Linked DNA regions of Homo sapiens. The protein of the gene in region 1 purifies or fractionates together with the protein of each later gene. This does not show direct contact. Each region holds a gene or a part of one and is shown on either strand. Other genes may lie near its edges.

Region 1 (7,958 bases):
GGAAAGAGGAGGAGGAGGGAATAGAGAAAGAAGAGAAGGAGGAGGAGGAAGAGACGGAGGAGGAAGAGAAAGAGGAGAAGGAAGAGAAGAGGTGAAGGAGGAGGATGAGGAGGGCCCTGCAGGTGCAGGAGCCTCTGGAGCACAGCTGTCAGTGGGGAAGGTGAGCTGTGCTTCCAGGGCAGTGACGAGATGTGCCCCACTAGACTGGATGCATCACCCACAGCAAGACCATGTATGGCCCTTGAGTTAAACAATTAAATATCTCGAGAACATCACATGTTTCTGGTTTCGTTTGAAACAGAGGCAGACCTTGTCAACCTGGGTCCACCTTCCAGCCTGGCAAAAATGGGCTAGACCTGCCATAACCCTTAACACTCCCCTGACATTGCAGTCTCTACTCCTTGACATTGCTCACTGGCCTCTGCAGCAGTTCTCTCTGTGCCCCCTAGCATGAGAGGCAGTGGATGAGAAGGCAGGCAGGACAGGATAGGAAAGCAATGGGAAGCACACTAGCTCTGGGATCAGAAAGGCCAGCATGTAAATGCTGGTCCATCACCTCCTGGCCCTGCGGCTGTGGGCAAGCTATGGAAGCTTCCCAAATCTCAGTGTGCTTGTCAATAAAATAGGGAAAACATCACTCCCTTGGAGAGCCATTGTTTTCAAAAGATGCCCACATGAGATACAACTGGCACAGTAGGTAACACATACTAGATGCTCGCAATGGTATTATTTGTGCTGATGGCAGACTAAGGAATTTCTAACGAATCCAGTGGGCCATGGGGAGCCACAGTGGGCTTTGAGCAGGGGGATGACGTGGGAGAAGTGCATTTCATGAAAGGTGTTTCTGATGGTGAGTGCAGCAGGAAGGAATTGGGGGAGGGAAGGGGACCAGTTTGTCAGGAGTGAAGAAAGGGAGTTGGGTCTCTTGGTTCTATCATTTGTGGGCCCACAGCACGAGTACAATGGAGGCCCATACATTTTTGCATTTTTGCCATTATAGTTAAGATTACAAATGGACTGGCATTCCATAGTCCCAGCACTTTGGGAAACCAAGGTGGGAGGATCACTTGAGGCCAGAAGTTCAAGACCAGCCTAGGCAACATAGCAAGACCTTATCTCTAAAACAGTAATAATTTTTAAAAACTGGCCAGGTGTAGTGGCTCAAGCCTGTAATCCCAGTACTTTGGGAGGCTGAGGCAGGAGGATCACCTGAGGTCAGGAGTTCGAGACCAGCCTGGCCAACATGGTGAAACTCTGTCTTCTACTAAAAATACAAAAATTAGCCAGGAGTGGTGGCACACACCTGTAATCCTAGCTACTCAGAAGTCTGAGGCAGGAGAATCGCTTGAACCTGGGAGGTGGAGGTTGCAGTGAGGGAGATCATGCCACTGAACTCCAGCCTGAGCGACAGAGCGAGACTCCATCTCAAAAAAAAAAAAACCAAAACAAAACAAAACAAAAAAACAAACAAAAAAATGTAGTGGGGCATGGCAGTGTGCACCTGTAGTCCTAACTACTTGGAAGGCTAAGGCAGGAGGATCACTTAAGCCCAGGAGTTCAAGGCTGCCATGATCACATCACTGCCCCCCAGCCTGGGCAACAGAGCCAGACCCCAACTTGAAAACAGAAAACAAAACGACAACAACAAAAACAGTTACAGGGCGCCTGTAGTCCCAGCTACTTGGGAGGCTGAGGCAGGAGAATGGCGTGAACCCGGGAGGTGGAGCTTGCAGTGAGCTGAGATCAAGCCACTACACTCCAGCCTGGGCTACAGAGCGAGACTCCGTCTCAAAAAAACAGAAAACAAAAAAACAAAATACAAAACAAACAAACAAACAAAAAACAGTTACAAATGAAACCAGCTGATCGTTCAATGAAATACGTTCTTTTGCCTAAATGAGTAAGTCTTCCTAAGAGCCTAGAAGGCCAGGTTCAAGTTTGGAATTCTCTAACTCCAGATCTCCACCCTGGGAATGACACTAGAGGAGCCCCTCTCTACTCCCGGCCTGAGCCAGTTGTTCTGCCCCCAGCCTCAAGCTCTTGGAGGCTCCAGCACACCCACGCAAGCTGACCACCAGGCTCCCATTAGCCACAACTGGAGCAAACTCTCACATCTAGAAGAGTGGCCACTGAATCTGCTCTCTACCCGAGGGAGGTTTACCTGGGAAGAGACCTGTGCAAGCCCTGGATGTGGGTACATGCCATTTGGGCAGAAAATTCCAGAGTCCTGTAGGGCAAGACTTAGAGAGTATGGGGCTGGGAATGGCAAGTGCACTTGGGGATGGGGTGGGGCTGGGGTACTCCTGGGTCCTTGGGGAGGGGCGTGCAGGAGGAAGACCCCATCAGAAGGGGCCGTGGGTGGAGGCAGCAAGGGCCTGGCGGTACCTTTCGCGAGGGAGATGTTCCGCAGTGCGATGGAGTGCTCCCAGTCCTTGAGGCGCAGGTCCTCGGTGACCGCGTTGAGCATGGCCAGCTCCTGCTTCAGCTGCAGCTCCATGCCTACGTGCGCCAGGCGCAGGCGGCGCGTGTCCTCGCTGGCGTTGCTCACCAGCACCCGCAGGTCCTGCAGCCGCGTGCGGTGGAGGGCCACGTCGTAGGACAGGCTGTGGTTGAGGCCGCGCAGCACGCCGCCCACGTCGGCCAGCTCCTCGCCCAGGATGCCCACCCTGCGCGCCAGCCCGTCCAGCAGGCCCGCGTGGCGCCTCAGCAGCAGCTGGCTACTGTTGCTCTCCACCTGCAGCTGGTAGAGCTCCAGCTGCGCCGTGTCGCTCTGCTGGCCCGTGCGGTCCCGCAGCAGGGCCACCGCCTGCTCGGTCTGCACCGCCTGCGCCTGCAGCCCCCACAGCGCGCCCTCCAGCCGCTGCACTGCGCCCGCCAGCGCCAGCAACGAGTCTGACTGGTTCTGCAGCGCGTCCTGCACCTTCCACACCTGCTCCGTCAGGTCCGCTTGCAGCGGAGCCTGCAGCAGCCGCAGCTGCAAGTCCCGGAAGCTCTCATTCAGCCGGTTCACATTGCGAGTCAGGGCCTTCAGGTCGTCAGGGGAGCTGCGCGGCCTGGACACTGCGGAGGAGGAAGAGGGGAGACTTGAGCACCGCTGGGGAGGAAGGCCCCGGGTGACAAGAGGCGAACCCAGTCAGAGCCTGGCATGCAGTAGGTGCTCAATAAATGATAGACGAATAAAATCACAGGTGGTGTGCTGAGCGCTTTACTAGATCCCAGGTATTGTGCTAAACCAGTGGTCCCCAAACCTGCCTGCACATTAGATTACCTGGCTAGGTGTCTCACCTGCAGAAATTGTGATTGAATTGGTATGCGGTGTTACCTGGGCTTTGGAATTTTTAGAAGATCCAGAAGTAATTCTAAGGTGCAGACAAGTTTGTGAGCTGCTGTTCTAGTGTAACTATCATAGGTTAATTCAGTGGACCCCTAGGAAACTGCCAGTTGCGAATGTTGAAAAGCAGTTGCATATCAGCAGTTTCATGTAGGTCAGCTTAAGATGTTGGGTGGTGTTATCCTCTCAACTTTAGAGGGTGGGTACCTGCTGCAATCTGAATAAGCCCCCCAAAATTCGAATGTGGAAACTTAATCACCAAAGTCATAGTAAGGGGGGTCTTTAGGAGGTGATTGAGTCACGAGGGCAGAGCCCTCGCGTATTAGATTAGCAACTTTTTAAAAGAGGTTTGAGGGAGCTGTTTGCCCTTCTTGCCACCTGAGGACACATAGAAGGCACCATCCATGAGAAACAGGCCCTCACCAGACATGAATCTGCTGGCACCTTTATCTTGGACTTCCCAGCCTCCAGAACCATGAGCAATACATTTGTTGCTTATAAATTACCCAGTCTACAGTATTTTGTTATAGCAGCCTGAACAGACTAAGACAGTACCATTCTTATCCCCTTTCAGAGCTATTAGCATTGCCCAGGGTAAAAATTTACAGCAAGTAAACCTTAACTAAGAATGCTTGCTCCAGAGCCTGGGGGCTTCCCCTCAAGTCAGCTCCAGGACTGCCTAAAGGAAGAGCACCCCGGCAGCAGACTCAGCCAGGCTCAAGGCCACCGTGTCTATTTTCTGGCCTCCTGAGTTCGGGGCCCTTTCCCTTCTGCTCACGTGCTGTGCCAACAGCCTGTCTGGGTGTTCTCAGAGTGTTCTCACGACTTCTGATAAGCCACAGTGTCTCCTGGAGCTCCAGGGGCAACATGAGAAGAAACTGACGTGAAATTATCAAGCTTTCCATTCTCCAACAGCCCTGTCTCAATACTTGTCACCCAATCAGAGTCCATGATTGGACAGACACAATCCAATGAAGACTGCTTTTATATTGATATGCTCCTTCTCTGCATCTTCTACTTCTTTGTGTTGTTTGTTTGTTGTGTTTTCTGTTTTTGTTTTGTTTTGTTTTTTGAGACAGAGTCTCACTCTGTTGCTGTCGCCAGGTTGGAGTGCAGTGGTGCAATCTTGGCTCACTGCAACCTCTGCCTCCCAGGTTCAAGTGATTCTCCTGCCTCGGCCTCCCAAGTAGCTGGGACTACAGGTGCATGCCACCACTCCCAGCTAATTTTTGTATTTTAATAGAGATGGGGTTTCACCATGTTGGCCAGGATGGTCTCGATCTCTTGACCTCATGATCTGCCCGCCTTGGCCTCCCAAAGTGTTGGGATTACAGGTGTGAGCCACTGCACCCGGCCCTACTTCTTCTTCTAGATCCTCTATTTCCTCTTCAGCAAAAAACCCATCCCAGTGATCCCCCACCCCTTCCTCTTGGAGGGTTCCCTTTTCTTGGTTATAAGCAGCTATTGCATAATACTAAGAACAGTGATGTGTGTCTTCATCGTTAGAATCTAGCATCCTTGTATCTCCTGGGAGGTCGTGGACTGTTCTGACTCAGGTATGCTACAAATCCTGAGTGGGGATGTCTAGGGATGCTCATTGTCTGTTAGTTGTGTCCTGTCCACGGCTGTTCCCCACTCTGCTCTGCATACCACAGAAAGGGAAATAAGGCCTGGTGGTGGGATAGGTAGGAGGTGGGGGCAGATGAGGCACAGAACAAATTCCACCTTGAAAATCTTGGAGGTAACTGGGGAACTTGGTACACAGCTTGTTCAAACAATGAGAAAAATCAGATGGAATAAGTTCTCATCCAGAACTTCACATTGAGAAGGAGGGATATAGGTTGTGAGGGCTCTCTAGCCATGGAAAGATCAGCTGTTACAATCTTTCAGTGATGCTTCTGGAAGCACACGGCATTTGTGGTGGCCACCCTGGAGGAGATAAGTCATTCCAGCTTAGGCTCAGAGGCTCACAGGGCTGAAGGGGTCTTGGAGCCTTGCCTCGACTTCTCCCCCACCCAGCACTTTAATCTAAGAAGGTCACATTGCAAAAGGGTCCTGGCACCCCTGCTTACACCAGTCTCTCCATCTTCAGTTAGTGCTGACTGTCAGAATTTTCTGTATTCTGTTCAGACTTAGAATTTGCCTCCTTGTATTCAATTAGGAAAAGAGGAAGTCAAATTGTCCCTGTTTGCAGATGACATGATTGTATATTTAGAAAACCCCATCATCTCAGCCCAAAATCTCCTTAAGCTGATAAGCAACTTCAGCAAACTCTCAGGATACAAAATCAATGCGCAAAAATCACAAGCATTCCTATACACCAATAACAGACAAATAGAAAGCCAAATCATGAGTATACTCCCATTCACAATTGCTACAAAGAGAATAAAATACCTAGGAATCCAACTTACAAGGGATGTGAAGGACCTCTTCAAGGAGAACTGCAAACCACTGCTCAACAAAATAAAAGAGGACACAAACAAATGGAAGAACATTCCATGCTCGTGAATAGGAAGAATCAATATTGTGAAAATGGCCATACTGCCCAAGGTAATTTATAGATTCAATGCCATCCCCATCAAGCTACCAATGACTTTCTTCACACAACTGGAAAAAACTACTTTAAAGTTCACATGGAACCAAAAAAGAGCCCGTTTTGCCAAGACAATCCTAAGCAAAAAGAACAAAGCTGGAGGCATCATGCTACCTGACTTCAAACTACACTACAAGGCTACAGTAACCAAAACAGCATGGTACTGGTACCAAAACAGAGATATAGACCAATGGAACAGAGCAGACGCCTCAGAAATAACACCACACATCTACAATCATCTGATCTTTGACAAACCTGACAAAAACAAGAAATGGGGAAAGGATTTCCTATTTAATAAATGGTGCTGGGAAAACTGGCTAGCCATATGTAGAAGGCTGAAACGGGATCCCTTCCTTACACCTTATACAAAAATTAATTCAAGACAGATTAAAGACTTAAATGTTACCTAAAACCATAAAAACCCTAGAAGAAAACCTAGGCAATACCATTCAGGACATAGGCATGGGCAAGGACTTCATGACTAAAACACCAAAAGCAATGGCAACAAAAGCCAAAATAGACAAATGGGATCTGCTCAGGGTGAGCACGCAACCTACAGAATGGGAGAACATTTTTGCAATCTACTCATCTGACAAAGGGCTAATATCCAGAATCTACAAAGAACTCAAACAAATTTATAAGAAAAAAAACAAACCACCCCATCAAAAAGTGGGCAAAGGATATGAACAGACACTTCTCAAAAGAAGACATCTATGCAGCCAACAGACAGGTGAAAAAATGCTCATCATCACTGGCCATCAGAGAAATGCAAATGAGAACCACAATGAGATATGATCTCATGCCAGTTAGAATGGCAATCATTAAAAAGTCAGGAAACAACAGATGCTGGAGAGGATGTGGAGAAATAAGAATGCTTTTACACTGTTGGTGGGAGTGTAAATTAGTTCAACCATCGTGGAAGACAGTGTGGCTATCCCTCAAGGATCTAGAACTAGAAATACCATTTGACCCAGCAGTGCCATTACTGGGTATACACCCAAAGATTATAAATCATGCTACTATAAAGAACATGCACATGTATGTTTATTGCAGCACCACTCACAATAGCAAAGACTTGGAACCAAGCCAAATGTCCATCAATGATAGACTGGATTAAGAAAATGTGGCACATATACACCATGGAATACTATGCAGCCATAAAAAAGGATGAGTTCATGTCCTTTGCAGGGACATGGATAAAGCTGGAAACCATCATTCTCAGCAAACTATCACAAGGACAGAAAACCAAACACTGCATGTTCTCACTCATAGGTGGGAATTGAACAAGGAGATCACTTGGACACAGTGCAGGGAACATCACACACCGGGGCCTGTCAGGGGGTGGGGGACTGGGGGAGGGATAGCATTAGGAGATATACCTAATGTAAATGATGAGTTGATGTGTGCAGCAAACCAACATGGCACATGTTGTATCAAACCTGCACGTTGTGCACATGTACCCTAGAACTTCAAGTATAATAAAAAATTAATAAATAAAATAAATTAATAGAAGATGCTCTCAGAGGATCACAAACACTGCCGTATAATCTAGACCTTAACTATTTCCTATGGGATTTATTTAGTGCAGTTTGATCTCAAGTGTGAGATGGTGAGAATCCTGAGAGGTTTCTTTCAGGTAAGAAAACCTGAGAGGTAAGAATCTGAGAGGTTCTGAGAGGTTTGTGCCAGATATGCATTTAGATCTCTTGGGATGTAGGCTGGAGCTGGCCACGTATTGAGACAGGGCTGTTGGAGAATAAAAAGCCTGATAATTTCATGTCAGTCTCTTCTCATGATGTCCCTGGAGCTCCAAGAGGCACCACAGCTTATCAGAAGTTGTGAGAACAGTTCCAGTTTTGGTTCTCAAACTGGGATCTTGAGTTCTGGTTTTCAAACTGGGACCTTGAGTGACTAAGAGTAACAGGGCAACCTCCCAGACTGAAGCCCCAGGGCCGATTCAAGGACACATCTGCCGAGGGCCAAGACCCTGAAGTGGACAATTTTCTTCCTTACCTCTGTCTTCCCCAGCTCTCC
Region 2 (7,958 bases), on another chromosome or scaffold:
ATCAATTCTAATGGTTTTTTGGTGGCATCTTTAGGTTTTTCTAAACATAGGATCGTATTGTCCTTTGACCTCTTAAAGAGTAGTTTTTTAAACTTTCCTATTTCAAGAGAAGGGAGAACATATTTATCAATGAACATCAGAAAAACAAAGAGAGTTAAGTCACTACGAAGAGTTGAGTTTTGAAAATAATTCAGTTTGAATTAGTATCATTTACCTTAAACACTGATGTGAGATAGAAATGAATTTTCACGACAGTTCTTCCTATCTTTTCCACTCCTTCTTCTATCTAAAACATTTACTAAACTTTTCAAACAGCCTAAAAGAAGACTTGAGTAATTTATGTGTCTTTTCCCTTTTCCTTCTTGCATTAGATTTTCATGATAAACCTCAAACGCAGAAAGGACAGGCGGGACCGGATGCTGCGCACACTGTATGAACAGGAGATTGAGGTCAAGATTGTCGAGGCTGTGGATGGAAAGTGAGTTGGGTTTCTTCTCCCATTGCAGATGTGATTGGAGTGTGGATGTGTCTTCTCTGACAGAGAGTTAGTCCCAGGTGGGGCTCTAAGTCTCTTCGGTCATTAGAGGATAGTCTTATTTTCAAAACGGCCACCTGTAGTAGCATTTAAGTTAATTTCATCCTGTAGAGCAGGCCTGAAATCCACTCACCAGCCAGTGGTCTTTGGTCTTCATTACACTGAAGGCTCACATTGGATGTGATTGTCCCGTCTCTGGGGGTTCTTGCAACAGTTGTGGTGGTTTTCAGCCTTCTGTAGTGTAACAGAAGGAATGTGTTCAGAATTGTGTTCAGAGCTGAATTAGAGCATAAAGTGCTGAAACTTGGTCAATCTGAAGAAAATAGATGGAAAATGCATAAAGGTGTACATTTCCTGTTGCATGAGATGCCTGCCACAATCTGCCTGGACCGATCATAGTGGCCACTTTTCCTGGAAATATGGCAGGAAAGTAACACAGGGAACCTAGTTAGATCCCTTCTTTTTTTTTTTTTTTATTTTGTTCAGCTTTGCCCTTTTATTTGACACCCTAAACTATTTCAAGGCATAGATTTTTATAAAATGTGCCTTTCCATGTTATATGTTGGTTTAGAATATCAGTAGCTTTGTTTTCTATTTGCATAACTCCAACTAAGGAGTATGGCTAGCAGCTGTTGAAGTTTTTATGACTCCCTTAGAGAATCTCATCAGTGTTTCCCAAAGTGTGACCTGGACACTCACATCAGAGTCCCCACGGATGGTTAAGGGGACAGCTCCCTCAGTCCCATCTCAGACCTGCTGAATTATGCTCTCTGAGGCTGGACCCAGGATCTGCATTTAAGAAGCCTCAAGGTGATTCTTAGACAGGATTGCCCCATAAAATACTGGATAGCCAGTTAAATTTGTCCCAAACATCACATGGGGCTTGGTTATACTAAAAAATTATCCATTATTTATCTGAAACTTAAATTTGACTGAGTGTTTTGTGTTTTTCACTTCCTAAATCTGTCAGCCCTATTCTTGGGTGCAGTAGAGTTTAGGAACCACTGCTTCAAATACCTCCAAGAACACCAGTCCCATTCATAGACCACATGGACCAGGGAAACTAGTTGAGTAGTGAGAGTTCTTTATATATCCTGGATGCAAGTCCTTTATCAGATATGTAATTGTCAAATATTTTCTTTAACTTTATGCATTATTGATTGTCACAATTTCATGATGGTATACATTGAAGCAAAAGAGTTTTTCATTTTGATGAAATCCAATTTATTTTTTGTTCTTGTTGCTAGTAATTTTAGTGTCATACCTAAGAATCCATTGTCAATTTCAAAGCCATGAAGATTTACTTCATGAAATTTTCTTCTGAGAGTTCTACAGTTTTATCTATTACATTTAGGTATTTGATCTATGTTGAGTAAATTTTTGTATATGGCATGAGGCAGGGATCCATATTCATTCTTTTGCACATGGTTATCCATTTGTCCCTTCACCATTTGTTAAAAAGACTTTCGTTTCCCTCGTAGAATTGTCTTGGCACCATTGTAAAAAGCCAGTTGCCCATAAATGTAAGGATTTATTTCTGAACTCTCTATTTTATTTGATTGATCTATATGTCTATCCTTATGCCAGTACTATACCGTCTTGATGACTGTAGCTTTGTATTTAAGAAGTATGAGTCCTTCAATTTTGTTATTCTTTTTCGAGTTTGTCTCAGCTATTCTGGGTCCCTTACTTTTTCCATATGAATTTTAGAATTAGCTTGTCAAGTTCCACAAATAAAGAAAACGGCAGCTGGGATTTTGATAGGAATTGCATTGAGTCTGTAGATCAACTGGGAGAATATTTCCGTGTTAACAATATGAAGTCTTCTGATTCGTAATCATGGAATGTCTTTTTATTATTTAGATCTTCTTTAGTTCTTTGAATGATGTTTTGTCATTTTCAGTATACAAGTCTTGCATTTATTTTGTTAAATATACTCCTAAGTATTTTACTCTTTTGATGCTATGGTACATGGAACTATTTCCTTAGTTCTATTTTCAGATTGTTCATTGCTAAATGAATAAGAATACAATTGATTTTTGTATATTGATCCTGTATCCTGCAACCTTGCTGAACCCTTTTTATCAGTTCTAATAGTACTTTTTCCTTTGTGTGTGTATATTCCTTAGGATCTTCTACATACAAGACCATGTCACATGCAAGTAGAGATAGTGTTATATGTTCCTTTCAAACCTGGATACCATTTATTTCTTCTTCATGTCCAACTACCCTTGCTGGATCATCAAGTACAATGTTGAATAGAACTGTTGAGTGCAGTTTCTTGATTTGTTCCTGATCTTAGAGGGAAAGCATTCAGTCCGTCACTGCTAAGTATGATGTTAATTGTGGGTTTTTCACAGATGGCCTTTACTGGGTTGAGGAAGGTCCCTTTTAGTCCTATTTTGTTGAGTATTTTTATCATAAAAGGGTATTGGATTTTGTCAAATGGTTTGTCCGTGTCTATTAAGATGAACATGTGACTTTTGCCTGTTAATATGGTACGTTACTTTGATTGGTTTTCACATGTTAAACCAAACTTGCAACCCTGGGATAATCCTGGGACCCATTTGGTCATGCTGTATAATTCCTTTTATAAATTGCTGGATTCTCTTGCTAGTATTTGCTTGAAGATTTCCACATCTATATTAATAAGTGATATTGGTCTGCAGTTTTCTTATAATGTTTTTGGTTTTGTATCAAAATAATATTGGCTTCATAAAATCAGCTGGGATGTGTTCCCTCCTCCTCTTTTTTTTTGGAAGTTTGTGAAAGATTCGTGTTAACAATTTTTAAACATTTGGCAGAAACCCCTAGTGAAGCCATCTGGTTCTAGGCTTTTCTTTATGGAAATTTTTTTTATTACTAATTAAACTTCTTTTCTTGTTATTTATTTACTTTCTATTTCTTCTTGAGTCAATTTTGGTAGTTTGTACCTTCCTATCAATTTGTCCATTTCATCTAGGTTATCTAATTTGTTGCCATACAATTGTTCATAGTATTATCATATAATCTTTTTTACTTTCATAAGGTCAGTAGGAGTGACCCCTCTTTCATTCTTGACTTTAATAGTTTGAGTTTACTTTTTTTTAATTCATCAGTTTAGGCAAATAATTGTCAATTTTGTTGATCTTTTCAGAGGACTGACTTTTGGTTTTGTTGATTTTTCTCTATTGTTTTTCTATTCTCTAGTTCATTTATTTGTACTGTAACCTTTATTATTTTCTTCCTCCTGTTTGCTTTGGGTTTAATTTTCTCTTTATCTAGTTTCTTAAGATGGATGGGAGGATTATTATTTGAGATATTCTATTTTACTAGAGACATTTGCAGCTGTAACTATATCTCCAAGTACTATGTTAAGTGTATCGCATAAGTTTTGGTATGCTGTGTTTTCATTCATCTCAAAATATTTTCTAATTTCCCTTGCAATTTCTTCTTTGACCCATTGGTTAGGAGTGTATTGTTTAATTCCACATTTCTGAATTTCCCAAGTTTCCTTTGGTTATTGATTTTTAATTTCAAACCATTGAGGTTGGAGAACATACCTTGTGTGATTTCAATCCTTTTAAGTATACTGACACTTAATTTATGACCTATATGGTCTTTATGGTCTAAAAAATGGTATTTCTTAGAGAATGTTCTATGCACACTTGAAAGTGTGTATTTGGCTATTGTTGGGTGGAATGTTCTATAGATGTCTGCTAGGTCTGATTATTTTAAGATATTATTCAAGTCTTCTGTTTCCTTGTCTTCCTCCTGCCTAGTTCTATTATTGCAGGTGGGATATTGATGTCTTCCCCTATTATTGTTGAATTGTCTGTTTCTCCTTTCAATTCTTCCAGTTTCATGGTTCTGAGGTTCTGTTAGGTGCATATGTATTTATAATTGTTATGCCTTCCTGATGGATTGACCTTTTTTTTTTGAGATGGAGTCTTGCCCTGTCACCCAGGCTGCAGTGCAATGGCACGATCTTGGCTCACTGCAAGCTCCAGCTCCCAGATTCACACCATTCTCCTGCCTCAGCCTCCCAAGTAGCTGGGACTACAGGCACCCACCACCATGGCCGGCTAATTTTTTGTATTTTTAGTAGAGATGGGGTTTCACCGTGTTAGCCAGGATGGTCTCGATCTCCAGACCTTCTGATCTGCCCACCTCGGCCTCCCAAAGTCGTGGGATTACAGGCGTGAGCCACCACTCCCGGCCCAGATTAACCTTTTTATCATTAAAAAATGTCCTTCCTTGGCTCTAGCATGAATTTTGTCTGAGATTTATTTTGCCCAATATTAGCATAGCTCTGCCAGCTCTCTTGTCATTGCTGATTATATGGTATATCTTTTTCTATTCTTTTACTTTCAACCTATTTTTGTCTTTTAATCTAAAGGCTGCCTCTTATAGATACCACATGGTTGTATTAATTTTTAAAACTTACTATGCCAAATTCTTCCTTCATTGCAGTGTTTTATTCATTTGCCTTCACTACATTTTTTTCCAGATCCTTAAGGTCAGCCAGAGGTGAGAGACTAGGGACTTCTCAAGTTTTTCCTGGGCGTGTGGACAGCCCTGAATATGCCTGGGGCCTTCTAGATTCTCAGGGATATTTTGGAGCAAATCAAACTCCCTATGGACCTCTTATTCCTTGGTTTTTCCTTTTAAGTTTTTTGGTGGGCTTCTTGTTAGCATCAGCTGATAATGCTTCTCAAACAGCTGTAATGTTAAACAGTTGTTGCTCATGGGTTTTGACAAATGACCTGCAGATAGTGCTGTTCACAGAAAATGAACTCTGAGTCAGGTCAAATCAAGACAAGCTCTGAGAATGTAGCTTTTCAAGGAGCTACTAGACAGGTTGAATAGAGATTATTTTCTGGGGGCAGGTCTTTAAGGGAGTCTCAGTCCATTTTGTCCCTGCCAGTGGCTTCTGGGTTGGTGGGGTTTGCCGCTCTCTTAGTTGTGAGGCTACTGGTTTTCAAGGCTTTTGTAGGGCTGGGGTGAACAGGTTAGGATTAGGGCAGCTGTGAACTTCACAAAGCTCACTGTGTTAACAGAGATTCAGCAGTAGGTCTTGATCAAACACTCCTTGGATTATTGCAGTACTTTAACTAATTTCCATAGGAGTGTACTTATTAAATCTTGTCAAAAAACTGATGATGCTTAGAACTATGTTGGGCACTATGAGGGATACACAAAAATATGATACCCTCTTGTCTTCCCAGACCTCATAATACTAGTGTGACACATTAGCCTGGAGGAACTTCTAAGGAATAAAGGGAAGCCTCTCTGTCTTTGTCTGTGTGGGGGAGGGGTGTTTGCAGAACTAACTCTCTCTTTCTCTGGCCTTTGTGGTGGGGACCTTTGACTTGTTAATCTCCAGACGTGTTTTATGTGATGCAGGGCACTCAACACAAGCCAGCTGAAGGCACTGAATATTGAAATGCTGCCTGGCTATCGAGATCCCTATTCCTCCAGGCCTCTAACAAGGGGTGAAATCGGCTGCTTTCTCAGCCACTACTCAGTCTGGAAAGAGGTAAATAATGCTTTATTCAGATTGCAGTTTTATGATGAGGAGAAAGGAAAGCAGGCTATCGTAGGTGAGTTAGGGCCAGATGTAAAGTGAGCCCGCAACTGTTCTGGAAATGTGCATGAGAGCTGCTCCTGCCTTGTGTCTCCCTCTGACCCAAGACCAGCAACAAAGGGGCAAGGAGGAGTAGCTTTGGTGCCACTTGGGGTGGTGACGGGGGAGACACCCATGTCCTGTGTGCCACACTCTTATTAATTCATTATCATCATTAGCAGGAATGCCTTCTATTATACCTATTATGACATCACTTATTAAGTGATTTTATACAAGAAATCACACAGAAGTCATGTGAGGTGGGTTGGGAAGGACAGACCACCTTTACCGAAGAAGAAATTATTAAGTAGCTTGACCCGGTAAGAAGTGGCAGAGCCAGAAGTGGAACCCCTGTCTTACAGATCAAGACATATCTGGAGCAGATATTGGTGTGTGGGGTTCCTGATAAACAGTCAGTTTCCACAACCAAAAAGAAAGTCCCTGAAGAAAGGCCCCTTGAACACTTTCTCTTTTAATGATCCAGTCTATGCCTGCCTTTGTTTTCTTTAAACTTTAAGTGAAATGTGATAAATAGGTATAAAAAGATATAGATCAAAAGATACAGCTCAGGGAAATTTCACAAACCAAACAACACACCCATGTTAATCAGTACACAGATCCAGAAGCAGGTAACCAGCATCCCACAAGCACCCCCCCACCCCGTACTGCCTTCTGGTCATCAGTCCCCAAGGGCAGTCACCATCCTGACTTCTAAAGGCATTGAATAGCTTTACCTTTGTTTGTACTTTCCCTTATATGAATGGAATCATGCAGTATGTGTACTCTCCTAACATGACATTTAGGAGATTCACCTATAACGTTGCGTTTAATTGTGATCATATATCCTCACTGCTGTGAATATTCCAAAGTTTATTATCTATTCTACTGTTGATGGCCATTTGCTTAGATTCCAGTTATGAATCTGTGCTACTAGACTCGTGACTTTTTAATACTTATTTATCTAATAAAAATTGGGTTTCAAACTTTTCATAGGGTATCTTCCTACTGATGACTTTTGCAGGTAATTGATCGAGAGCTAGAGAAGACTCTTGTAATTGAAGACGATGTGCGTTTTGAGCATCAGTTTAAGAAGAAGCTGATGAAGCTGATGGATAACATTGACCAGGCTCAGCTGGACTGGGAACTGATGTGAGTGACAAGATGATCTTACGAGAGGGCTCTGAGAGGCACTCAGTCCTTTCCAATGCGCAGAGAGCCCCACCTCCACAGCCAGTAGGAGATACAGCTTAAGCTTCCACTTATCTAGTTTTCTTTCCATAAATGTTCTCAGAAATAAAAATGGGTAGAGGTTAGCCACTGGATTTTGCATCCTTCTACTCTTCAGGGTGGGAAACTGTGGAAGATTGTCTGAGACCTGGAGTCGGCCTGCAGATCAGGGACCTTCAGACAGAACCAAGGTGTGGCACTGAGCACTTACTTAGGAGCACAGCAGAAATCCCACCCTCAATTAACGTGGCACATGGAGTGGGTGTGAAGCTGGAGAAGAGGCCATTTATTCAAGCTCTAAAGTCCTGTGTCATATTTAAGACTCAGCTCCCGGGACAGCAGGTTGCCTCTGCAGCTTCCGAGAAGGTGGGAGGTTAGAGGGTCAGCCAGGGAGCTCCTCTGTTGGGAAATGGGGCTGCACAAACATGAAGAACATGGACAACTAGATTTGGGGAAGGGTCTGAGGCTGATGCAGGAAAACCAGGCTCACCAAGGGAGTGCTGGCTCTGAGCTGACATTTAGTTAATGTTCTTTGTCTACTCTCTGGGAATTGAGTGGCTTCTGCTTTTTTCTTCCCTTCCCTTTCATTTT
Region 3 (8,592 bases), on another chromosome or scaffold:
TGGACCCTGGCTTTATGATGGCAAGCTGTGAACTGACAAGGCAGTGGACAGAGAGCGGAACATCCTGTCACCCACCGTACCTAGCTCATGGGATTCAGGAAGAAAGTAAGAACATGGGTTTTAAAAGATTCCAGAAATCCCCATGATTTCTGCAGTTAATGTGTATGACTTGGTCATAATAAAAAGAAATGTACAAAAATGTTCTTTACATACAGAAAGATGTTCTGGAGGTTATGGAAACAGCATCTAAGTGGGGTAGTATTACCCTGCACAGAAATGGCAATCCACAAGCTAAACACTTGACTCTAGGGGTGTGGATTTGTAACTGAAAGAAGCACAAACCACACAGCCTTTTCCTGACACTGGAGCCTCCCAGCCTTCCTGGTCAAGCAATGGGGAGAGGGCAATTACGACCAGACCTCTAGGATAGTCTTTTAGAAATATAAAGTGGGGAAAGGTGGTAGAGGGGGAGAGAAGAGAGAAGCAGAGCTGTCAGCATGCTTGATGTTAAATAAAACCTACCAAGACTCAGCTGAGAATTTTAGCAGAATCCAAATGTGCTAAAAAAAAATAAATAAATAAAAAATAAGACATGGCTTCCCTCTCTAAGGTTCACAGCTAAGCTTGCTTAGAATCACACATGCCAAGGTTAAAAATAAAAAGCAGCCATCCCTGAATGACATGGGCTCCAGGATGGAAGCCTGAGGTATGCTGTTTAGTGGTGGAAGGAAGAGAGGGGAGGGAGGAGAGTCTGGGTTCAGGGCATAGGTATTTATTGGAGGGCACACTATCTGAAAGCCAGATGCTCAGAATTTTGCTGTTTTGCACTTAAAAGGCACTTCGCATTGGCAAAAGGTGTCATAATGATCTTCAGATTTTCCATCGAGGAAATGCTGGCCTGCATTCGAATGTGGTCATGGCTGACCCACTCTGGGCTCTGCTGTTCAATGTGTTTGCCTCCTCCATCCCGGGATCTGACTCAGACAGTGTCCACATGCACCTAGACGGGATGCCCATGAGTCACAGCTTGGAAAGCACAGTGGGCTATTGGCATTGGCATGAAGCCAGATCTGCCACTCTGTGCCACCCTACCCTATTAACCAGACATAATGGTGCTGGGGCCACCCACAGGCTAGCTAGCCCCTGGTTGGCTGCAATGGGGACAGACTATGTGTCTGCCTGCTAAGGATGATGCATGACCCACTCGTCCCCACAACTACAACCATTGCGAGCCAGGAGTAACCTGCAAAGGTGCTAAATCAGGCCTGCGGTCCCCCTACTTTTGGTAAATCCAGGGCCCTCTATTATAAGCCCAGTGGGGTCCTCTTTCTAACAAAGTTGTCCCTTGTCCAATATGCATATGACCTCTACTGCCTAAAGCTGTAGATAAAAACAGCAGATTTAGCCTCAGCTACTCTGTCAGCTACCATGTTACCCCTCCCCAACGTCATTACTATGCAGATGTTTCTAGAAAGTCTTCAAAGGGTCAGGTGAATTGTGAGAATTCTGTGACCTATGTGTTAACAGGGAGCCGGGACATTACACCACCCACATGTGGGCCAGTCCTACACTTCAGCACCATACAGGGCTAGGGAGGCAGAAAGGCATTGAGGCGTGGACGCTGCCACCTCACAGAAGCTTTGGTCTGTGCCTTGACTCCCCCAGTGGGGATAATTCTCCTCCCTGGCATGCATGGGAAGCATAGACAGTCTATGCATGACTGGCTGCCCCTAGCACCCTTGCTAGCCTTCACCCGCAGGGCCCACCTTCAAATTCCACATTTTGGCTGCTGGTTTAGAAGCATCACTTAAAGTGAAGTGCCTTTTTTACACCTTTAAGGCACTTCAGAAAAGCCTTGGAAGGTATACAGGGCAAGGGCTGTTTTCCTGCCCATTGGGATGGATGAGAAAATAGAGGCTGATAGAGTTTAAGAAACTTGCTCAAGCTTAAGTGACAGACCCAAGACTCGAATCCAGGGCTCTTTCCACTACTCAAAGACCACCTACCAGGGCCAGAGCTACTGGGGGTCTCAGCCCCAGTACAGCAGCAAATACCTGGGTTTGAGATTGAGACTCCCTAAGGCATCTTTCTTACTGGAGACCTCTGGCGATGCACTGTCATTTGGCCTGAACTCTGGGGACCTTTCCCAAACAGAGCCTTGCTGCAAGGGGTCTCTGAACTGCCTTATCTTTCTCAGGGTCCTTCAGGGGCTGGGTACCAGCAAAGACCTACAGAGGGTTAGGATGGTGCCGTGTTCAGGCAGCACAGGTCCTCGCCTGTCCCTTCCTTGGGCACCCTAAGGGCTGGTCACAGAGGGAGTTAGCCCTTTAGCTGGCACTTAGGTTTGACTGGAGATAATCCTTTTCCAACGACTCCAGTGACGAGGGAACGCCCTTTGCAGTTCCAGAAACTGCCCGTCTAGATTATCACTGGGAAGTTCTGGGTAAATTCTGCTATAGCCCCCCATGGCCCTGTGTGTCAGCCTGAACCCATACAATGAGTTGGGTTAAAAGAAAGAGAAAACACAAGAGACGGATGGCTCTCCCAATGGAAGCGATCAGAGACCCGGCGCACGGAGCGGAGCTCCTGGTCCTTACCTGTACCAATCCAGCCCGCGGCCGTAGTTCCTGTCAAAGAAGTGGGGTTCCGTGCCCAAGGCCCGCACGTCCGGGTGTACTCGGATAAACTCCAGCACGGCCCGGGTGCCCCCCTTCTTCACGCCCACAATGAGGGCTTGGGGCAACCGCTTGGTACCCAGCTTGGGTGAGCCGGAGTGGTTGGAACCGGAGAGGCGAGGGGCGGGCACGGCGGCGGCGGGCGCGCTGGGAGCGCTGGGCTCGCTGGGCGTCGGCCCGGAGGGATCACAGGGGCGGGACTTCTGGAGAAGTTTCTGGCCGCCCGCGCTGGGGCCGCGGAGGCAGCGAGGCGCGCCGAGGAGGCGGCTCCGACCCAGGTCGTCGCAGCAGCACAGGAAGCTGTAACACAGGTAAGTGCAGGAGAGCGAGAGCGTGAAGGCGAAGAGCAGCCTGCGCGCCCTCCGCGGCTGAGGTGGCCCCGCGCGGCCCAGGACCCTATAGGCCATGGCTCCATGGGCCCGCGCCGGGGGTCATGGTTTCCGAGGGGGCACCGGCGGCTGAGCTGCTGTGGCCCTGCGGTCGCCTAGAGGGCTCGCGTGGCGCTGCCACGGCCACGCGGGTCGGGCGTTGGGGGCGCCGTCTTCTCCGGGGGCTGCTGACCAGGGTGCGCACAGTGCCAGGGGGTCCCGGGGGCAGCGGCTCCTCGGGGAACAGGCGGTTGCATTTCCAGCATCTCCCGGTCCTAGGCGATGGGGCTCCGGGCAGCCGGGCGGCTCGGGCGCTCCCAGGCTCTTACGTGCGCCGGGTTCGGAGCGCGCCCAGCGCCCGAAGCCCCATTCCTGATCCTCGGAGCGCCGCTCACGAAACGCTCGGCGGCGGCGCGGCTGTGCGGGCTGGCGGGTGGACCGGACGGTGGCGCTGGCGCCGGCCGCGATCTGGCTCTTCGGGAAATGCCGAGCGGAGCGCGCTGCCGGCTCTATTTAAGGAGTGGCCTGACGTCAGCCGCGCGGGTCCCCCGAGCCCGCGCCGCGCCCAGGGACCTGGCCCGCCCCCTGCGCCCCCACTCTCTTACCCCTCCCAGAAACACAGCACGCGGGCCCTCCCCATGCAGGCCACTCCCTACGGAGCCCCAGGCCAGCTTTGGGGCGGTGAAACGAAGGTGTCAAGGCATAGTACTCCTCCGGGAGGCTGGACACCCCCACCACGCTGGCCTCTCGACATCCAGGGACACGAATCCAGGTCGAGATCGCGCCGACATGCAGACCAGACAGACCCAGACGCAGACGCAGGCACCCTGCCCTGATGCGCGGTCCCACCACCCTGACCCGCACACGCACGCACAGGCACAGAAGCACACGCGCCCTAGCCCGGACACACCCCCACACCCACGCGGGGGTGGGGAGGAGAAGTCCCCTAACCTGGGCCCAGATACACCGACAAGGACACTCCCCCCGCTCTCGACATCTCGCCAAATGGACACACACAGCCCGGAATCGGACACCGAGCGCACGCACGCCCTGGACTGGGACACGCGCTGTAGACGGGATGGGTGGAGGAGCCGAGCGTGAGTGAGATTCCGTGACTATTCACCCAGCTTCTTAGCCCCCAGCGCGCTGACTCACACCCCGGCGGCTCGCTCTGTCTCGCACCTATGAGGCACGCGCGCACCCCAACCCATTGTCACCCCACCTCTCCCCGGGCCTGCCGGAGAGCGAGCCCCGGAGCGGCAGACTCCGCGTCAGGAGGGTTCCTCTCTTAGCAGCCGCCGCCTAGCGGTAGACTGCTCCCCGGGGAGCTGTCCAGGGTACCAGAGGGTCGCCGAGGGCTGAGTGAGGAGGGCTTCTTCACACAGAGACACTAGGAGGAGGAAACAGAGTACAAGGAGAACGTATCCAGGAGCAATTCCACTTCGAATGATTCCTAAGTGAATGCCTACAGGACAGTTCTCGGTGACCATGTCCAGAACAGGCATAAGTGACGATCCCCAGTACTTCCCTGAGGGACCACACTGGTACCTTGGATCAGAACCCTGCATCAGAACAGGCCTAAATGGCCATGGCTAAGAACACGGCTGAGTTGTCCTTCAACAGCAATGCCAATGCCAATTCACCATGTCCGAGTGTTCACAAGGTGAGTGCCCTCCACCACCACCCAGCCATAGAATGTCTAGATGACCACCATGACCCCCACCCTGATCAGGGTATAACTGACTTCCTTCCTCAGGCTGTAAACTGATCATTAGGTTCTGTGGATCTTAGCCCAAACCAGAAAATATTTTGTCCCCAAACTAGTCCCATCCCTAGAAACCTTAAACCAATTCTACGGCAGATAATAATAATAGCTGCCAACTTTGTATCAAGCACCTGGCATGGGTTAACTGATTAAATATTCACAACCTATGAAGTTGTTACCATTACCCTGGCATCACTTTGCTGTCTTAATTCTAATAGTAGCTAGCATTTATTGAGTGCTTGTTTTATGGGAGTTATGCGCTAATCACTTGACATGCACTACCTCATTTATCTTTGGAGATAGGTATTATTGTAATTTCTAATCTACAGGCAGTGATAAGAAGATTTAACAAACATATACACAGTAACTGGCAGAGCTGGGATTAAACCCGGGCAGTCTTGACTCCAAGATTCAAGCTCTTAGTTACAGCACTTTGCAGCTTCCTAACTTCCTTTGACCATTATTCATATAATTCCATCCTAGGCTCCTCTCCTGGATGTAAGCTAATTTGTCTATGTCTCTTCTAAAATCTCACACCTGGGACTGCGCGAGGAATTTCAGATATGGATTGAAAAGTTCAACAGGACTCTCACCTCTCTTTTGTAAGTTCTATTTCTAGTAATGCCACCTAAGACTCCATTATCTTTTTCTTGTGGCTATATCACACTGCTGACATCTCAAACTTGCAGCCAAGTAACATCTCTAAATGTTTCTTACAAGTGCTGCTGATTAAGGCACAGCTACCCCATACTGTGCTTGTACAGTGGGCCTTTTTGGACCCAATGTGTAGGTCCTTATAGATTTGACTTGATTGCATTTCATCTTGTCTCATCAGTTCGCTGCCCTAGTTTTTTTTAAATGTCTATTTGAAGTCAAACCACGAGGTAGCTTTCATTTATTCAAAAAGAAAAAGTAGAAAGATTGTATCCCAGCTTTACCCTTTATTCCAGGTGTACTTTGGGCAAGTGGACCCCCTTTAAGCCTCAGGTTCCTCAGCTGTAAAATGGGACGCTATGATTCACCTTAAAAGTCTCTCAAAGTTTAGATGTTGCATGATTCTATGATTCCATTACCCAAAGCATGAACCACTCACTTGGCATCATGTAATTTCCACAGTTGATCACAATTTAATTAATTCCTCATTCTAATTGTTAATAAAAATGTCAAAACAAATATACTTAAAGGAGTTCTTCTTCTTCTTTTGGGTGAGGGGAAGTGTCTCACTCTGTTGACCATGCTGGCATGCAGTAGTGCAATCATAGCTCATGCTGCAGCCTCCACTTCCTGGGCTCAAGGGATCCTCCTGCCTCAGCCTCCTGAGTAGCTAGGACTACAGGCATGTGCCACCACACCTAGCTAGTTTTTTAATTTTTTGTAGAGATGAAGTCTTACTGTGTTGCCCAAGCTGGTCTTGAACTCCTGAGCTCAAGTGATCCTCCTGCCTCAGCTTCCCAAAGTGCTAGAATTACAGACATGAGCCACAATGCCTGGCCTGGAAGGAGCTCTTATATATACTTTGAACAATTATTCACATCATGAACCTGCTATTTTTGTATTCCATTGTTAAAATTACAAGGTTAAATGTGGAGTCATCTGCTGTGATCAGTACTATTTCCCTTAGAAAATAAAACATGAATATAATGATTTCTCATAATTCTGTGCTTGGCTTAATTTTTAAATAATTTTTAACCTTTGAATTCATAAACTGTGATATCCCTGGGTACTCACATATATCAAAACCAGGAAGATTTTCCTCTTCAAATTTCCAATCAGAGTAATGACTGACTTGGATAGAATTTTTTAGGAAGTGAGACATTGGACATACCTGCCCATCTCCTAAACCTTTATCTGTTTACAGTAGCAAACGTGATTCTGCTTTGGGGGTATCAGGTAGGATTATGCTGGGTTGTGTAGTTTGTCAATTAACACCCACTTAAGCAAGGTATATGTTTATTTTTGTAATCACATGAAAGTCCAGATGAAGGTACTTTAGGGCTTGTATGGAAGCTCCAAAGTGTTTGGGACCCAGGCTCCCTCTATCTTGTTACTCTACCATGCATTTCCTCCATTCTAAAGTCACCACATAGTCTACAATGACTTATTCATCTGCAGCCAGAATGTTCACATTCTGGTCATTAGTAAATATGTAAAGACATGCCATATCTGTTTAAGGACATTTCTTGGAAGTTGCCTGTATTATTTCAACTCGTATTCAATTTGACAGCATTTTATCATTTGACTTTCTAGCTTCAAGAGATGCTTCAAAATGCAGTCTTGATTCTGGATGGCTGTATGCCTGGCTAACACTTTGAGATTTTGGTATCAAGAAAGAACTAAAGAATGGTTATGGAGGACAACTAGTAATCCTTGCCATCCTTGGACAAACAGTTTTCCCTCTTTTATTCCCATGTGGTTTGTATGGGTTGAACATAGTTCAAAGACAGGCATATGACCAAGCCTGACATCATCACTTTCTAATTATATTTCAAGAACTGAAAGTAACTCAAATCTTTCTAGTGAGAATAAACCACACAACATTTGTGAAAACTATTGGAAAAGAGAAACTTCTTTTTCTGAGATGATGAATTAATCTAAAATAAGCCTGAAGCTTCCAATGGTCATCTCTGCTATCAAGAGGAGAAACCAACAATAAAGCCAACAAAGAGGAGAGCAGAACTGATGGAGGGAGAATTAGATTCCTGATAATATCCTTTGAACCTCTGAATCTAGCCATGCGGAATGCATGGACCCTGGACTTTATTGCTGCAGTGATTAGCTATCTTTCTGTTAGCACTTGCAACTGAAAGAGTGCTGACCAATACAACAAACAAACAAAAAGAGTTGCTCCCTCCGTTGCAAGGAATAGATACCATTTTAATAAAAAGTGTTGGAGGTGGGGGGGCTTATTTTGAAGGATATGCATGTATCAGGACTGCAACCCTTCCAAATTTGAGACAGTCATAGGATCCAGTTACTTTCTTCAACTTCTCTACTTTTCTTGTATCTTATTTATTTTGCTTCTCATTCTTAACTGCCATTGCTCTTTATTTATGAAACAGTAAGGGTTACTAGAAGTGAAAAAAAGAGATTTGGGATATCTTACACAGGAAAGGAACTTTGGGGTAGCTCACAAAATTAAGAAGAAGGCTGGAGAACTGGGCTCAAATAGAATAGCAACCAAAGAGCACATTACACTCTCTTTCTTTTCTTTTTCTGAGTCCATTTCTCTTTCACATTAGCATTCTCTTGAATCTTCCTTCCCACTCTAATGCCCTGCATTCAAGACTTTGAATTTAAAATCATAAAATAGGAAATTTTCTTCCCCTTCAGTCTTTGGGCCTAATCAAGCCTTGTTATTCAGTTTTATTTCAGTGTGTAAGCTTCAAATCTGTTCCCTAAAGCAGAGTTTTGCAAAAATGTGAGAAAATGTCCCAAAGAGGGTGACTCCTATGAGGCAAAGGACAGTGAAGTGGAGCCACATGGTCTGCAGGGTCTGTGAGGTACAAAGTTTGCATCTGAATCAGAGGATGTGCATATATCTGCTACATTTAGGAAAGAGGTTGAGAGCGAGAATGAGAGATTTCAGTTGTGCTTCATTCTTTGGATAAAATCAGAGGGTAAAAGCTCAAGGGGCTTCCAGATACTGCCTGTAGAAATGATCCAAATCTAGAAGACCGGAGACCTGGTTGATTTTTAAGAACTCTATAAGATTCCAAACGCTTTGTTATTCTCCATGTAGGTGACTTCTGTTTTTGCCAGAAATAATAGGTACCATTTATTGAGC

What was found.
Region 2: the proteins of SCARA5 (region 1) and COLGALT2 purify together in Homo sapiens (affinity purification with mass spectrometry; 2 studies listed by BioGRID and IntAct, with this or other methods). This does not show direct contact.
Region 3: the proteins of SCARA5 (region 1) and HS3ST2 purify together in Homo sapiens (affinity purification with mass spectrometry; 2 studies listed by BioGRID and IntAct, with this or other methods). This does not show direct contact.

What each region holds. Positions count from the first base shown.
Region 1 is NC_000008.11:27,919,186-27,927,143, forward strand, and holds part of SCARA5 (scavenger receptor class A member 5), read right to left. Parts: intron 3,061-7,958; coding exon 2,386-3,060; intron 1-2,385. UniProt on the Homo sapiens protein: Ferritin receptor that mediates non-transferrin-dependent delivery of iron. Mediates cellular uptake of ferritin-bound iron by stimulating ferritin endocytosis from the cell surface with consequent iron delivery within the cell.
Region 2 is NC_000001.11:183,943,527-183,951,484, reverse strand, and holds part of COLGALT2 (procollagen galactosyltransferase 2), read left to right. Parts: intron 1-371; coding exon 372-478; intron 479-5,920; coding exon 5,921-6,053; intron 6,054-7,161; coding exon 7,162-7,289; intron 7,290-7,958. UniProt on the Homo sapiens protein: Beta-galactosyltransferase that transfers beta-galactose to hydroxylysine residues of collagen.
Region 3 is NC_000016.10:22,809,101-22,817,692, reverse strand, and holds the start of HS3ST2 (heparan sulfate glucosamine 3-O-sulfotransferase 2), read right to left. Parts: upstream 3,532-8,592; 5' UTR 3,083-3,531; coding exon 2,598-3,082; intron 1,001-2,597; coding exon of another isoform or gene 871-1,000; exon of another isoform or gene 1-870. UniProt on the Homo sapiens protein: Sulfotransferase that utilizes 3'-phospho-5'-adenylyl sulfate (PAPS) to catalyze the transfer of a sulfo group to an N-unsubstituted glucosamine linked to a 2-O-sulfo iduronic acid unit on heparan sulfate.